2 separate regions of the Homo sapiens genome follow, and region 1 is linked to region 2. Evidence: fine-mapped expression QTL. A gene starts in region 2. The other region holds a variant in brackets. All regions are shown on one strand. Distances are between the middles of the regions. Region 1 has its middle 41 kb from the start of GCSH. Region 2 holds the start of GCSH (glycine cleavage system protein H).

The links. PIP is the estimated chance that this variant, and not a neighbour inherited with it, causes the effect.
Region 1: its variant is fine-mapped to the expression of GCSH in visceral fat (GTEx, PIP above 0.99). The same link has a PIP of 0.9 or more in subcutaneous fat.

Annotation. Positions count from the first base shown.
Region 1 is chr16:81,135,988-81,138,891 of GRCh38, reverse strand. It overlaps the pseudogene PKD1L2. Among named protein-coding and RNA genes, the nearest start is that of GCSH, 41 kb to the right of the region's middle. RefSeq lists an enhancer at 729-1,346. The variant C/T (reference allele first, on the strand shown) is at 1,756.
Region 2 is chr16:81,095,087-81,097,990 of GRCh38, reverse strand. It overlaps GCSH (glycine cleavage system protein H), which reads left to right and starts at 1,596. Exons shown (of 5, transcript NM_004483.5): 1 at 1,596-1,860. The coding sequence starts at 1,713. RefSeq lists silencers at 1,260-1,359, 1,510-2,179.

The DNA of each region.
Region 1 (2,904 bases), 41 kb before region 2:
AAAAAAAAAAAATCCTTGGTCAGGCAGCTCCCATGAGACCAGCTCCTGGTGATCTGTTAGCCTGGGATGGTGGAAAGAAAAAAAGAAAGAAAGAAAGAAATCCTAAATCCAGGTGTAGAGCAGAGGAGGCAAGGGGCACAGTTTCCCTTGGAAGGAGTCGGGCAGTGGGCAATCCCTGGGGAACCCCTAAGGGGAAGAGATACTGGATTGGGGTGTAGGGGAAGCCACCGAAAGGAGGAGATATTTAAAGCAAATCTTGGTTGGGCGCGGTGGCTCACGCCTGTAATCCCAGTACTTTGGGAGGCTGAGGTATGTGGATCACTTGAGGTCAGGAGTTCAAGACCAGCCTAACCAACATGGAGAAACCCTGTCTCTACTAAAAATACAAAGTTAGCCAGGTGTGGTGGTGCATGCCTGTAATCGCAGCTAATCCCAGCTACTCAGGAGGCTGACGCAGGAGAATCACTTGAACCCGGGAGGCAGAGGTTGCAGTGAGCCGAGATTGCGCCATTGCACTCCAGCCTGGGCAATAAGAGCAAAACTCCATCTCAAAAAAAAAAAAAAAGAGAAAAAGATTACAAAATTAGTCGAGCGTGGTGGTGGGTGCCCATAATCCCAGCTACTAGGGAGGCTAAGGCAGGAGAATCACTTAAACCCAGAAGGCGGAGGTTGCAGTGAGCCTAGATCATGCCATTGCATTCCAGCTGGGGCAATAGAGCAAGACTCCATCTCAAAAAAAACAAAGCTCATCTTTACACCTATGGGACTTTGCCAAATCCCCTCTCGTCCCCCATTCTTCCCTGAACAGCCTTTACCATAAGACTCAAAAAGCATCCGACACCTCCCTTCAACACTAGGCTCGCAGGATACTAAGAACAGGGCTGCGTCTTGAGCCTTTCTGTTCCCCAAGTGAACCACAGGATCCTCCTGTGTTTGTGTGGAGCAGGCGCAGAGATCACGTGGCTGAGGCCTTGCAGCTGAGACCCTGCACCTGAGCGCATTACTTAATACTGGAGGAAAGGGAAGGAGCAGGGTGGGGCAGGATCCCTGTGCTGAAAGCCCTGGGGGAGAGCAATTCTCCTTGCGGAGAGATCAGAGACCCCTCAGACAGGTGAGCGGTAGTAGGTGGGAAGGCTCAGGGGAGTTCTAGGACTGGCCAGTCCCCCATCTGGTCTGCGAGCCAAGGCCTTGCGGTCCAGCTTCATGACCACCTCCCATCTCTGCAGAAGGGAGCTGCATTCCCCCAAAACACAGGGCCCTCCCCAACATACAAACGTGGCCCCAAGCCCCACGTGCTCGCAGATGAGGGGTTGAGAGTTACCAGAGTGGGTTCGAGGACCTCCCTGGGTATTTTTCAGGTGCTGGGATTCGCTGCTTTCTTTGCACTGGTCTTGAAGAGAGTGGACGATGAGGAGGATACTGTGGCCCCGCTGCCAGGACATCTGTTGGGCCCAGGTAATGTGCCTCGGTGGCTGGAGGCAGGGTCTGGCCAGCTGCGGCCCTGATGAGGCTCAGTGAGCCCTGCAGAGTGCAGCCTGTTGGGGGTCCTGGGCCTTGGGCCAGCTCCCCAGACCTTTGTTCCTCATCAGCTTTTCACCCCCAGTTTGTGAGCCATCCCCAAAAGAGCCAGGAAAAAAGTGACTCCATTGTCTCCTGAGTATCTGTGTTTGTTCGTTCCCTGGCATTTCTCCATGACACCCAAGTATGACCTGCCAGCTAGAAGAGTTGCCTCAGGGACGAAGCTGTCCACATGGG[C/T]GGTCCTTCTCTGTGTAATTCCAAGCAAGCAGCTTTCTTCTCCGAGACTCAGGGCCCTGGGCTTTAGAACAGAAACTAAAACAAGAATCGGTTTACAGGAGGCTGCAAAAAGTGGCCGCAAATTAGAATTTTAGGACAAAGCTCTGCAAACTACAGCTGGGGGGCCACATGTCTCCTGCTGCCTGTTTTTGTAAATAGAGGTTTGTTGAAATACGGCCACACTCACCCCTGCTCTAGGAGGCCACTGGCCAGTCCCCATCCTCCCAGCCTGACTTCTCACTTCCCAACCAAAATTCCCAAGGGTGGTGACAGTAATGACAAAACAAACATGCAAATAAAACTGAATCAACGTGGAATCATTGAGGCAATGGTCTTGCCTTTCAGGGAAAATAAAATAGAAACAAACAAACCAAATGCCATGCACGTGCCTCACAGTGCAATGTGGCTACCTCTTCAGGGCCTGTATTCTTCCATTCCAGGACAGCGTTTTAGATTTGCAGATCTGAGAGGTCCATTAAAATCTTCTCAATTCTCCACAGAGATGCTAGGCTCCAGACCATTAAATATTCATTCAGTCACCCCTTTGGCAAGTCCTCAGGGAGCACTGGCTGCGGGCCAGGCCTTGTGATGGCTTGGGAATATAATTTACATAAAATTCACCCATTGTAAGTGCACAATTTGTTGATTTCAGTAAATGTATAGGGTTATGTAACCATCACTGCAATTCACATTTAGAAGAGCTTCGTCAGCCCAAAAGGTTCTTTGTTGCCCATGTAAAGTCAATCCCCACTTCCAACCCCAGTCCCTGCCAACACAGCACAGGTTGCTGCCTTTGGAATGAACAGCCCATTTGGGGAGATGGCATCAACCAGGTAAATGCACAAGTAGACATATAAGTGTGAATTATGGTAAGAAATAGGGTTGGGGAAGATCAAGAGAGGGCAGGCCTCTCTGCTGCGGTGGTGCCTAACCTCTCTGCTGAGAACGGGGGAAGGGAAGGACTGCACACTCAGCACCTGCAAAGGCCGCGAGGTGGGACAGTGGTGTCGTTTTATTGCAGCCATTTTATAGCAACCATTGACAGTGTGTCTGGAGCATGTTGAGTTGGGGGTGGGGGAGAATGGTTAGAGATAAGGGTAGAGGGGGTGG
Region 2 (2,904 bases):
GCGACCTCTGGTAGGTCTCACTGCTCATTATACGCTAATTATAATGCATTAGCATGTTAAAAAAAAAACAACTCCCACCAGCGTCATGACAGTTCACAAATGCAATGGCAACGTCCAGAGAAGTTACCCTATAGTCCAAAAAGCGGAGGAACCGTTAGTTCTAGGAAATCCCTGCCCCTTTTCTGGAGAACTCTTGAATGATCCACCCCTTGTTTAGCATACAATCAAGAAATAACTATAAGTACACTTAGTCGAGAAGCCATACTGCTGCTCTGTCTACGAAGAAGCCATTCTTTTTTTTCTTTACTTCTCTATTAAACGTGCTTTCACTTTATAGACTCTCCCCAAATTCTTTCTTGCATGAGGTCCAAAAACCCTCTCTTGGGGTCTGGATTGGGAGCCCTTTCTGTAACAGTACTAAAGGTGTGTGTGTAGCTTAAGGTGTTTTTCAGAACAGTATTTCTTTGCTGACTCATGGCCACTCCATAAAATCTGTGTTAAAGGTGAGGTTTTTCCCAGAACCTAATTTTTTTCTGACTTCTTGGATTGGGATGATGACTTCGGCTTTTCTCGGAAGGCCTTGGTCACACCGCTGGCCGATGAAACAAGGAATTGTGCACACTGGGTCTCAGCTCTCTGCGTTTTGAATATTTCTGCATTAGTGACTGGCTTGGGTCCAGTCTCCACCAAGAAGCCACTTATGACCCTTGGACAAGTCTTTATTCCTTTTTAAGTAAGCTTCTGGATTCTGCCGGTCCTGTTTGGGGTCCCTGGGGCTCTTTGAGACAGGAACGTTACAGAGCAGTTGAAGGAGAATAGAAACTTCCAGGCTGCAGTTCTGTCTAACAAAAGGAAACTGTTGAAATAGCTGCACAAGCTATGGGCTAAGACCCTGAAAAACCAGGGTGTGGGTCAACCTGGCTAAAACCAACTGGACCCAACGTGGTGTGGCTTTGACCTAGGCTTCACCTAGGACTCATTAACATACTAAGTCACACACCCACCGGCACCACAACAATTCCGGGAACACCCATATTTGGTGTAAAAATGGGTGGCACCACAGTTCTGACAAGTCTCCACCTTATTCCAGAAACCTTTGTGTATATTCCATTTCTCAAAGAAACCCATAAAGATGGAAACCCCAAGCCCCATTGTGTGGCCCTCTTTTGAGTCCGCCCTTTCTTCAGTGTGTACTTTGCAGTAAACCTCTGTACTTTCACGACTTTCCGACTTGTTCTTGAATTCCTTCGTGAGGTGGTGAAACCACCTTTGAAAACTTATGACAGAGGCAGTAAAAGAGATACACATGTGGAAAGGAACCCAGTCTGGGGCTAGGCCCCGCCCCCCTCCTGCGGGCAGCCCAATCATACCCAGGCCCGCCGCGCTAGTCTCCGCCTCTCGGTGCTGCCTCTTCCGGGCCTCAGGTTCTTCCCCATGCCCACGCCCCTCTTTCGCGTCGCCGTATCCGAGGTCGCGCCAGGCCCTGGAGTCCCCAGTCTCCGCGTGCTGGCCAATCAGACCCTGCCTCGCCCCCTCGCCTGGGAGTCTCCGCCCTCCACGCTCTGCCCAGTCAGGCTCTGTCCCGCCCCCGCGGCACCGCCTCCGCGCCTCCATCCAGCCGGCTCCCTCCGGCCGCGAACTGCCCCTCCCCGCCCCGCCTCCCGGCGCGGGTGGCCGAGGCGTAGCGCTGCGACCCCCGCACCCCTGCGAACATGGCGCTGCGAGTGGTGCGGAGCGTGCGGGCCCTGCTCTGCACCCTGCGCGCGGTCCCGTCACCCGCCGCGCCCTGCCCGCCGAGGCCCTGGCAGCTGGGGGTGGGCGCCGTCCGTACGCTGCGCACTGGACCCGCTCTGCTCTCGGGTAAGCGCGGCGGGCACGTGGGCGGCTGCTCCCTCCCCGCCTGGGCTGCTTGTCCCGGGCCCAGCGGGACACGGAGGACGCCGGGGCACCGCTCCTGAGCCACCGGGGCGGAGCGAGCGCGGACCCTGCCCCCTTCTTATTTCTGTTGGGATCCCTGGCTCTGCGGCCGCTTCTCCCCCTTAAGTAGCGGGAGGACCCGCGAGTAGCCTTTGCCCTAGGGATTGCATGCAGCCGGGAGGGGAGGCCTGCGGGACACCGAGGCGGGGGTGGCCCGGCGGGTCCGGCGGGCAGGTCGGCCGCTTGCTGCAGAAGCCAGGCACGTGTCGCTTAAGCGTCTCGGTGGCCTTAAGTTTATCTCCCATCTGCGTGCATCGTTGAGACCCCAAATGGGGAGGCCTTTAGTTTACTAAATGGACCGTTACTGAGAACTCCGAAGTAAAATTAAAACAGAAGCGCTTATTAAAATTAAAGCACCAGGCAGGGCGCGTTGGCTCATGCCGGAGGGCGGATCACGAGGTCAGGAGATCGAGACTATCCTGGCTAACACGGTGAAATCCCATCTCTACTAAAAGTACAAAAAATTAGCCAGGCGTGGCGGCATGCGCATGTAATCCCAGCTACTCGGGAGGCTGAGGCAGGAGAATCGCTTGAACCTGGGAGGCAGAGGTTGCAGTGAGCCGAGATCGCGCCACTGCACTCCAGCCTGGGCGACAGAGCAAAACTCCACCTCAAAAAAAAAAAAAAAAAAAAAAATTAAAGCGCCAGATCTAGATTTTTTTACTAGATAAAACAATCATAACTTTGAAGATTCAGCTATTTCCCCAAAACAAGTAAGATAAAGTCTTCTGGACTCAACAGAAGTTCTGCTAAAGTTTGTATTGGATCATTCATGTGTGTGCTTGCTGAAATGAGCCCTAACTCAAACGGACTTGAAATAACTGGGAAACCTGCCCATGAATGTTTCGGCCATTTGTGCTACTTCAGCACAATTATTGCAGGGGAAAAACAATTTTCTTTTTTTTTTTTTTTCTTTTTATTGAGACG